2 separate regions of the Homo sapiens genome follow, and region 2 is linked to region 1. The links come from fine-mapping of genetic effects on gene expression. A gene starts in region 1. The other region holds a variant in brackets. All regions are shown on one strand. Distances are between the middles of the regions.

What was found. PIP is the estimated chance that this variant, and not a neighbour inherited with it, causes the effect.
Region 2: its variant is the best candidate, but not a certain one, in a credible set for the expression of PAFAH1B3 in whole blood (TOPMed, PIP 0.70).

Annotation. Positions count from the first base shown.
Region 1 is chr19:42,299,657-42,305,021 of GRCh38, reverse strand. It overlaps PAFAH1B3 (platelet activating factor acetylhydrolase 1b catalytic subunit 3), which reads left to right and starts at 2,398. Exons shown (of 5, transcript NM_002573.4): 1 at 2,398-2,790; 2 at 2,983-3,072; 3 at 4,735-4,851; 4 at 4,930-5,052. The coding sequence starts at 2,713. PRR19 (proline rich 19) reads right to left here and starts at 2,890. Exons shown (of 3, transcript NM_199285.3): 1 at 2,519-2,890. RefSeq lists a silencer at 2,284-2,503 and enhancers at 2,057-2,711, 2,664-2,793, 2,874-2,923.
Region 2 is chr19:42,346,499-42,351,865 of GRCh38, reverse strand. It overlaps MEGF8 (multiple EGF like domains 8), which reads right to left. Exons shown (of 42, transcript NM_001271938.2): 13 at 3,394-3,594; 14 at 2,167-2,367; 15 at 1,482-1,718; 16 at 532-650; 17 at 306-437; 18 at 105-218. MIR8077 (microRNA 8077) reads right to left here and starts at 735; the gene lies at 661-735. RefSeq lists an enhancer at 1,562-2,063. The variant A/G (reference allele first, on the strand shown) is at 2,236.

The sequences.
Region 1 (5,365 bases):
TGGTCAGACTGGTCTTGAACTCCTGACGCCAAGTGATCTGCCCACCTCAGCCTCCCAAAGTGCTGGGATTATAGGAGTGAGCCACCGTGCCTAGCTGATTATGACTTCTTTTTTGGAGACAGGGACTCACTCTGTCACCCAACCTGGAGTGCAGTGACACCATCATGGGCCACTGCCACCTCATCTCCCAGGCTCAAGCTATCCTCCTGCCTCAGCCTCCCAACTAACTGGGACTACAGGCACTTGCCCTTTTTTTTTTTTTTTTTTTTTTTGAGACGGCGTCTCGCTCTGTCTCCCAGGCTGAAGTGCACTGGTGCCATCTCGGCTCACTGCAAGCTCTGCCTCCCAGGTTCACGCTATTCTCCTGCCTCAGCCTCCCAAGTAGCTGGGACAACAGGCGCCTGCCACCACGCCCCGCTAATTTTTTGTATTTTTAGTAGAGACGGGGTTTCACCGTGTTAGCCAGGATGGTCTCGATCCTGACCTCGTGATCTGCCCACCTCGGCCTCCCAAAGTGCTGGGATTACAGGCGTGAGCCACCGCGCCCAGCCTTTTTTTTTTTTTTTTTTTAGACAGGGTCTCACTGTGTTACCCAGGCTGGTCTCAAACTTCTGGGTTCAAGCGATCCTCGCACCTCAGCCTCCCCAGTAGCTGGGACTACAGGCATGCATCACTGCACCTGGCTCCCTCAGACTTTATTTGTTTGTTTATTTTTGTAATTAAGACAGAGTCTCGCTGTGTCACCCAAGCTGGGCCACTGTTGCCCAGGCTGGGCTGCAGTGGCGCGATCTCAGCTCACTGCAACCTCTGCCTCCCAGACTCAAGCAATTGTCCTGCCTCAGCCTTCCCAAGTAGCTGGGACTACGGGCGTGTGCTGCCATGCCTAGCTAATTTTTTTTTTTTTTTTGTATATTTAGTAGACACGTGGTTTCGCCATGTTGGCCAGGCTGGTTGACCTCAAGTGATCCGACCATGTCAGCCTCCCAAAGTGCTGGGATTACAGGCATGAGCCTCCATGCTGGCCTCCCTCAGACTTTAAAATCAAGCTATTCCACGATATTCCCCAAACCTAATAAGAAAGTGATTACCTGTGTCTTTTCTTTCTGCTTGCCCATTCTTCATTATCTTTCAGACCCAGCTGAGATACTACTCCTAGGAAACCCATAGTCCTCAGAGTCCTTCTCCTCTTCCTCCCCAGAGGTCCCTGTCTCTCCCTCAAACACAACTTTGACACCCCTACACCTCTGTGTCTGGATCTGTCTCCCTAAACACATTGGGACAAGGTCAGGAGCTGACCCACTCATTTACTACTCATTCAGCAAGCACTTGTGGAATAACCACTGTGTGCCCGGCCCAGTTCCAGGAAAGTGGATTGAAAACATAAACACAATGAATAACACTCATCTCTGTCTCAGTATCAATCCACCTCGAAGGAATGAATACATGGGAAGGTCCCACCTGGAGTGAGGCTACAAGAACATGACCAGGACGTTTAGCAGGGAGTGAGCCCCCCACCTGGTCCCAGAGAAGAGGGAGATCTGAGAAGACACTGAGGTCTGAGATTAATTTGGGGCAGCGTTGGGGGAGAGGCGCGACCCTAGGTGGCCTTGGCTATGGATGTAGGTTTCAGAGCTCAGACATACCCAGTTGGCCTGTGGGTTTAGAGAGAGTGTAGAGGCTGCAGATCTGCAAGATGATCTGCCGGAGGGACGCCAGACTGGACCTGAGCCCTGGAGGCGTCTCTAATTTCCTTTCTCTTTCTGCACCTTCTTCTACCCTCCAAGCAGGTCCTATGGTGTCTTGAATGCAAAGATATGTAGTTTATATGTTATGCCACGCGCGCGCACACACACACGGTGTTTTGAGTAGGGGTCCTGTGATGTCTTGAATGCAAAGATATGTACTTTAGATTTCAACACACACACACACACACACACACACACACACACACACACACCCACGGTGTTTTGAGTAGGGGAAGCCCACGAGTAGATAGGCTCACTAAAGCCCTGGCGCGGCCTTAGAGTGGCTCCTTAGAAGGGAGCCTCGAATTTTCACATTTTGTCATCTTCCTTTTCTGTCCCCCACATCAGTAGAAAATAGGAGCGTCCCCCCCAGCCAGGTGCATTCGAGCCACCCCTTCAAGGGAATATAAGAATGGACTCGTCCACTCGCTCCCCTCCCCCCACCACGTGAATGGGTCACCCCCCCCCCCGCAACAGTAGGTGGTCCCTTCCGCACATTTCACTCTGTACAGCAAATGGTTTCTTCCCATTTGCTAGACAGAGGGCTAGATTTTCCCCGCCCACTCTCGACTCTTCAGGTAGTTCGCCCCTCCCCGTGACCGGTGGGTGGTTTCTCCCTCCTCCCCGCCTCGGGAGCTGGATGGTCTCGCCTCTCCCTCCCCCCACCCCGTGCCGGGTGCGCGGCCTGGGAGTCAGCGGCCCGAGCGGGAAGCGCCGGGCGAGCCCACTGTGCGGCCGTCGTGGGGGAAGCGAAGGTTCCTGATTCCACCTACCTCCTAAGTGAAGGCTTCCGTCCCTGGAGAGGAGGCGGCGCCCTGTATCGGCCTTCGTCCTCCGCGGGTGTGCTAGCGTTGGGACGGTCCTTTGTTGCCGCGAGGGGTAGGAGTGGGCGTGGCGGAGCCAGCTCCGTTCGGAACACTCCCGGGCCGACCCGACTCGCTCATCCTGCAGGAGCTGCGGCGCCAAGATGAGTGGAGAGGAGAACCCAGCCAGCAAGCCCACGCCGGTGCAGGACGTACAGGGCGACGGGCGCTGGATGTCCCTGGTGAGCGTTCCCACCTGGGATATTGAGGAGTCCGGGGGCGCGGGGGGTGGCTCAGGAGAACGGCTGGTTCGTGCCACTCTCACTACCTGATTGGGAAACTGAGGGCAGTTGAGGAGGCGCTGCCTAAGGGAGCAGGGCGGGGCGGGCCCTGGAGCGTGCATGCCATTGACTCCCTCTCGCGCGCTCCCGCAGCACCATCGGTTCGTGGCTGACAGCAAAGATAAGGAACCCGAAGTCGTCTTCATCGGGGACTCCTTGGTCCAGCTCATGCACCAGTGCGAGGTGAGGGCAGTCCCTCTCCCCCTGCCCCATCCAGCCCTGTGTCCATGCTGACACATCTGGACCAGAACCCAGGCCAGGTGAGGTATTATGAGAGTACCCAGATTGGCCTCAGGCAGCCCGAGGCTCTGAGAATCTTGGTGTAAGGTGCAACATTCTATTGAGAAAGAAATGTATGCCTTGGTTTTATCAGATTGGATTTGTGTATAATGTACTAAGACCTAAAATGAGGCTTTCCTGCCATAGGCTTGCCTAAAGTGAGGCTCTTTCTTGTTTGCTTTAAGTAGTGCGCAGCCCTGTTGGGTTTACACAAAGCTATAGTCACTTTACAGGAAGCGAAGGGCAACTCTAATGGCACTCCACAAAGAGGACTCAATCATAATAATATCTTTCCACAAAGCATGTCCAACTGTAATGGGTTTCATCAAAATAAGTTTCAACTGTAATGCCATTGATTCAATGCATGGCTCAAGCAGACTGGATTTTCATGAAGTGAGTCTTGCTTCTATGGGGCTTGGTTTGTTTTGTTGGTTGGTTGGTTGGTTGGTTGGTTTTTGAGACAGGGTCTTGCTCTGTCACCCAGGCTGGCGTGCAGTGGTATGATCTCTGTTCACTGCAACCTCTGCCTCCTGGGCTCAAGTGATCCTCCCACCTTAGTCTCCGAGTAGCTGGGACTACAGGTGCACATCACCATGCACCTGGCTAATTTTTGTAATTTTTGTAGAGATGGGGTTTTGCCCTGTTGCGCAGGTTGGTCTTGAACTCCTGGGCTCAAGCAGTCCGCCCACCTCAGCATGAGCAACAGAGCCTGGGGCTTGGTTTAAAGTGAGAGACTCTAGGCAGGGTGTGGTGGCTTACGCCTGTAATCCCAGCACTTTGGGAGGCCAAGGCAGGCGGATGACCTGAGGCCAGGAGTTCGAGACCACCCTGGCCAACATGGCGAAATCCTGTCTCTACTAAAAATACAAAAATTAGCTGGGCATGGTGGCACATGCCTATAGTCCCAGCTACTTGGCAGGCTGAGGCAGGAGAATCGCCAGAACCTGGGAAGCAGAGATTGCAATGAGCCGAGATCGCACTACTGCACTCCAGCCTGGGCAACAAGAGCAAAACTCCGTCTCAAAAAATAAATAGGCTGGGCACCATGGGCTCACGCCTGTAATCCCACCACTTTGGGAGGCCGAGGCAGGTGGATCACCTGAGGTCAGGAGTTCGAGACCAGTCTGGCCCACATGGTGAAACCCCATCTCTACTAAAAATACAAAAAATTAGCTGGACGTGGTGGCGTACACCTGTAGTCCCAGCTACTCAGGAGGCTGAGACATGAGAATCACTTGAACTAGGGAGGCGGAGGTTGCAGTGAGCCGAGATAGTGCCAGTGCACTCCAGCCTGGGTGACAGAGTGAGACTCTGTCTCAAAAATAAAATAACTCTGTCTCAAAAATATAAAATAAAATAAAATAAGTGAGAGACTCTAATAGATTTCTATAAAGTGAGGTTCAGCCATGCTGGAGTTTGCTCCAGGTAAAATTTTAAGACTGCTTCCATGAAGTAAGGTTCTTCCATAATGGCATTTGGTTAACACCTGGACAGAGGGGGATGGTCCATGCGGACAGTGCCCTTGTGCCCCTACCACTTCTTGCCCACACCACTTCTTGCCCACAGATCTGGCGCGAGCTCTTCTCTCCTCTGCATGCACTTAACTTTGGCATTGGTGGTGACGGCACACAGCATGTACTGTGGCGGCTGGAGAATGGGGAGCTGGAACACATCCGGCCCAAGGTGAGCGGGGCTTGGGTGGGGCTCTAAAACATCTTTTGGCTGCCCCCTCACCGCTGCTTCATGTCTCTTTTTCCACAGATTGTGGTGGTCTGGGTGGGCACCAACAACCACGGACACACAGCAGAGCAGGTGACTGGTGGCATCAAGGCCATTGTGCAACTGGTGAATGAGCGACAGCCCCAGGCCCGGGTTGTGGTGCTGGTGAGAGGCTGGGAGAGTGGGAAAGGAAGAATGGCAGTGGTCTGGGACCCCCTCAGATATAGCCACAGTTGGCACAGTTCTAGGCAGCTTGACATAGAGCAGTGGCTTTTAGGCAGAATCTCACGTTGGAGCTTGCTATACCCTTCAGAGTGGCTGTGGTTGAGAATATGCTCCGAGACCAATTAGCCTTTTTTGCCCAGGGATGGCTTAAGACTTTGGGGGTATTGAAAAACTAAAAAACGGGCCAGGCACGGTGGCTCACGCCTGTAATCCCAGCACTTTGGGAGACCGAGGCAGGTGGATCACGAGGTCA
Region 2 (5,367 bases), 47 kb before region 1:
ATGGGATGGGCAAGAGGGCAGAGAAGCAAAGAGGCCATTAGAATGACCGGTCATGGAGGAAGGACACAGCCGGGCACCCTGCCCACCCACCTGCCCGGGCTCACCGTCCCAGTGTGGGGTTGTCCTCATTGCCACACCAGCCACACTCGTGGCTCTGCAGACACTCATGGCAGGTCAGGAAGCCATCGCAGCTCCGGCACCGTGGCTCCGAGTGTACACTGCAGGATGGCAGGGGTGGGGGTCAGAGCCCCAGCCCCTTGCCGGTGGGGAATCTTCCTCTGTTAGCCCTGCCCCAGGGACCATACCTGTCGTCCCAGCCTCGACAGCCCCCGTGTGGGTACCGGGCCAAGTAGGCAGCAAACAGGAAGCAGGTGTGGGTGGACTGGCACCAGGCGCACTGGCTAGAGTTGGCCAGGCAGTCCTCACAGGTCAGTCGCCTGGGGTGGGGAGCAGGGGGCCAGGTCACTCCACAGCCAGCACACATCCCCAGGCACATCCACCCACCCACTCCCTGCACCCAGCCTGACTCACTGGCTGCAGAGCGGGGGACACTCCTCTGGACTCTTCAGGGCACCCCGACCCCGGCCCCGCCGGCTGCATGCCGCGTCCCCTTTGCGGCTGGTGCTCTGATGCCACTCACAGAAGGGGTCCTGGGGGTCAGTTGGGCAGAGGAGTCAGAACCCCACTCAGCCCTTTCCTTTGGACTCCCAGTGCCCATCCCACCCCCTGCCCCACCCTGCAGACTGTCCCTGTAAGGCCATCTCCCTCCCCAGCTGCCTGCGTCTCTGGACCCCTCCCTTCGACCACAGACACCCATGGGTCGGCCCGCCCAGCACCCACTGTCTCCTTTAGGCAATAGCACCCCTTCTGTGTGGTCCGGGTGGGGCTTATTCAATCCTCAGGATCCAGAGGTGGGCAAGGGGCCACATTCCCTCCCCACAACTCCAGTCATTGGCCCAGGAGCCTGTACAAGGCCCAACCAGAGCCACAGAAGTGCAATTCTGGGACTTCTGTTGAGCTCCTGGATGGTGGTGGGGTGGGGGGAGAGAAATAGGAAGCCTCACTCTGTTTGAGACAGAGCAGGGACTTAGAGCCTGGACCCTTAACGGCTCCCTTGCCACTCACAAGGAAACAAACCCTCCCAGGGAACAAGAGGAAGCAGGGTGTCGAGGGCTGCCTGACATCACTTGGAGGTGGCAGGCCTGAAGGCCTACTCCTGGGCTCCAGTGCCTATGCTGAGAAACTCCCCGCTAGTGGAAAAGGATGGAGTTGCATTCTCTGGCCCCTACAACAGGGAGAGTCCTGACTCCCCAGGTGCCTCTCTCTACAGCTCCATCTCACCCTCCCCACCAGGCTCTGCAGATCAAGGCCAAAAGCCCTTGCTGTTTCCCCCACACCCCCCACCAGGGGTTCCCTTGACTGCCCATTGCCTGCTGTGGCTCCCTCCACCTTGTGACCTCCCCTGGTGGCCCCACAGGCACCTGGGTGCAGGCGTGGCAGTCCCGATGCTCCTCGCAGAGTGGGCAGAGGGTAGGCACCAGCACCAGCAGGGACCCACCAGCCCCGTCATCCCCGCAATGGGCTCCGCCCTGGCGCAGGTGGCAGGTGGCACTGGTCAGGCACCAGCCACAGCCCTGGTCTGCCAAGCAGCCCAGGCAGGAAGAATAGGAGGTGCAGGACGACGAGCGGTAGGGCTCCAGGAAGAAGAAGGAGATCTCCTGGGGAAGGGGTCACAGGAAGGCAGCAGTCAAGGTCTGGGGCAGGGGTCAGAGTCTGGCGCTAACTGAAAGTAAGGGTTTGGAGCCCAGGTTGAGAACTCAGGCACATAGGAAGTCAGGATTTAGGAAATCAGTAAAGAGGTCCAAGGTCTGGAGGAATCTGGAGATTATTATAGGTCAAAGTATGGAGGGCAGAGGTCAGGGTCAGCAGGGTCAAGGGTGAGGAGTCAGAAGATGGGGGTCAAAATATGGGATCAGGTTAGGGTCTATAGGCAGAGGTCAGGGGCCACAGGGTTCAAGAGGAGGTCCAGAGTTCAGAGGCCAAGAGTTAAGGAGTCCGAGGCCAGAATCTAGGGATTTCAGAGTTTGTGGCCTGGGGTTCAGAAAGCCCAGGTGATCTGAGGCTGGGGCCTGCGGCTAGGGTTGGAGGTAGGTCCTGGGTACTCACGCTGCCTCCTGGCACACCAGTCCGATCCCACAGCAGAGTTAGCTCGCTGTGCCCAGGGCCTGCCGAGCC[A/G]TTGAGCTGGCCCTGGATCTCTACTGCATACTTGTGGTCCCGCCCAGGCAGAGGGAAGAGGCGAGCAGACCCAGGGCGCTGCAGCCGCCGCGTCTCCTTCTCCTGATGAGCCACCCAGCGCCCCACCTCCTCCTGGGGTAGGTGTGAGTGATAGGCAGGGGCCTCAGAACCCTTCCCATTCCTTCCTCAGACCCCTGATACCTCCAAACCCACCCTGTACCCCACCCCCTCCTAAGAAGAGGGCCTCAGAGCTCCTTAGATCCTGAGAACCTCAGAGGTGAGACCCCCAGGGACCCTCCTCCTCAGGGGCTTTTTTTTTTTTTTTTTTCTTGAGACAGGGTCTCATTCCATCACTCAGGCTGAAGTGCAGTGATGCGATCATGGCTCACTGCAGCCTCAACTTCCCAGGTTCAAGTGATCCTCCCACCTCAGCCTCCCAAATAGCTGGGACTACAGGTGCATGCTACCATGGCCAGCTAATTTTTGTATTTTTTGGAGAGATGATGTCTCGCCATGTTTCCCAGGCTAGTCCCAAACTTCTGGGTTCAGGCAATCCACCTGCCCCTACCTCCCAAAGGGCTGGGATTACAGGTGTACACCTCCATGCCCAGCCTTCAGGGGCCTTTCAAGTCTGACTCAGACCTTCCTCACCTGCTTCAAAGTTTCCCTCAAATTCTGCTCACAATTGAAAACCTCAGCACCCTCCCTCCTCTACGAAAGATCCATTCCCAGCCAGGCGCAGTGGCTTACGCCTGTAATCCCAGCACTTTGGGAGGCCAAGGTGGCGGATCATCTGAGGTCAGGAGTTCCAAACCAGCCTGGCCAACATGGTGAAAACCCATCTTTACTTAAAATGCAAAAAAATTAGCCAGGAGTGCTGATGCACATCTGTAATCCCAGCTACGTGGGAGGCTGAGGCAGAAGAATTGCTTGAACCTGGGAGGTGAAGGTAGCAGTGAGCCGAGATCGCGCCACTGCACTCCAGCCTGGACAACAGAGTGAGACTCTGTCTTACACACACACAAAAAATCCATCTCCTGCCTCTAATTTCTCCCCAGCCCTTCCCCAGAACCTTCAAATCACCACAGATGCTCTATACCACACCCCTAACTCCCTATTTACCATAAACAACCCCCTGAATGTCCCAGGCGGCCTCACCATGTTCTCCGTGTCAGGGCCACGGGCCATCCGGGCCAGGACGTGTAGGCGCTGGGCCCGCGTCCACACGGCCACGTCCTCAGCCCCTGGTCCACCTGGCCCTCCAGGCAGCATTGGGTAGATGAAGCCACGGTAGACCAGGGACACATCTGTCTCTGCGCTGGGTGTTAGGGTGATGGTCGTGCTGCGGACAATTGAGACCTGTGCCACCAGGGATGGGTGTATGTGTGAGTCCCTTTCTGGACTCACAGGCCACATCAGAGCCAGAAAAGACTGGTCAACCCAACCTTCTTCCCCATTTTACCAAATGAGAGACTGAGGCAGAGGGACAGGGGTTAGGTGGCTTGTCAAAGGTCACTCTGGGAAAAGAGGCAAGACCTAAATTCAGACAATAGACGACAGGGTCCCAGAGCCCACCTTTACCCCTGGCCTCTAGCCATTTCCATCTCACATTAAAACTCCAGGACTGGACACTTCAGTGTCTTCTTATCCAACTCCTCACCTTTCCAGCTAAGCACTTCAAAGCCCAGATCTAATATTCAAAGTGGCAGACAAAGTGCAAGATTTATTTTCCTGGTGTGTGATTTTGTAATAGCAGAAGAGTGGAACAGTCCAAGTGTTCACCAGTGGGAGGCTATTTAAATAAACTACAAATGTAAATGGAATATTATACAACTTAAAAAAAAAAAGAAGAATGAAGGCTGGGCACGGCGGGCACTTTGGGAGGCCGAGGTGGGCAGATCACTTGAGGTCAGGAGTTCAAGACCAGCCTGACCAACATGGTGAAACCCCATCTCTACTAAATACAAAAAATTAGCCGGGAGTGGTAGCGTGCACTTGTAATCCCAGCTACTTGGGAGCCTGAGGCAGGAGAATCGTTCAAACCCGGGAGGCAGAGGTTGCACTGAGCCGAGATTGCGCCATTGCACTCCAGCCTGTGCAACAAGAGCAAAACTCCGTCTCAAAACAAACAAAAAAAATACAAAAAACAGCCAGGCATGGTGGTGCATGTTTGTAATCCCAGCTACTTGGGAGGCTAAGGTGGGAAGATCACTTAAGCCCGGGAGGCAGGGTTGCAGTGAGCTGAAATCGCTTGCCACTGCACTCCAGCCTGGGCGATAGAGAGAGACTCCATCTCAAAAAAAAAAAAAAAAAAAGAATGAGAGTGTTTCTTAAGTTCTGTTATGGGAAGCTTGCCAGGAAGAAAAAAAGGAAGCAGTCGTATAATGTTCATAGTATATTAGTTTAGTGAGAAAGAAAAATGATATGATGTCATGCTTACTTGCATCTGAATAGGTAAATTCTGGAATAAGATCAAAGAAACCCAAATGGATCTTCCAGGGAGGTATGGTGGCCTTAAGTTGCAGCCATGCTGGAGCTAGATAATTTTGGACCACTTAAGGGGTAGGGAGTGGGGTAAATGAGAGAGACTGTCCATTTAGTGACTTTTTTTTCTTTTTCTTTTTCTTTTTTTTTTTTTTTTTTTTTGAGACAGAGTCTCTCTCTGTCACCCAGGCTGGAGTGCAGTGACATGATCTCAGCTGACTGCAAGCTCCACCTCTCGGGTTCACGCCATTCTCCTGCTTCAGACTCCTGAGTAGCTGGGACTACAGGTGCTCACCACCACACCCAGCTAATTTTTTTGTATTTTTATTAGAGACAGGGCTTCACTGTGTTAGCCAGGACGGTCTCGCTCTCCTGACCTTGTAATCCGCCTGCCTTGGCCTCACAAAGTGCTGGGATTACCGGCGTGAGCCACCGTGCCCAGCCTTTTATTTATTTATTTATTTTTAATTAAAATGGAGTCTCACTCTGTTGCCCAGGCTGCAATGCAGTGGCGTGATCTTGGGTCACTGTAACCTCTGCCTCCCAGGCTCAAGAGATACTCCTCCCTCAGCCTCCCAGGTAGCTGGGACTACAGGCACGCATCACCATGAGCAGCTAATTTTTGTATTTTTAGTAGAGATGGGATTT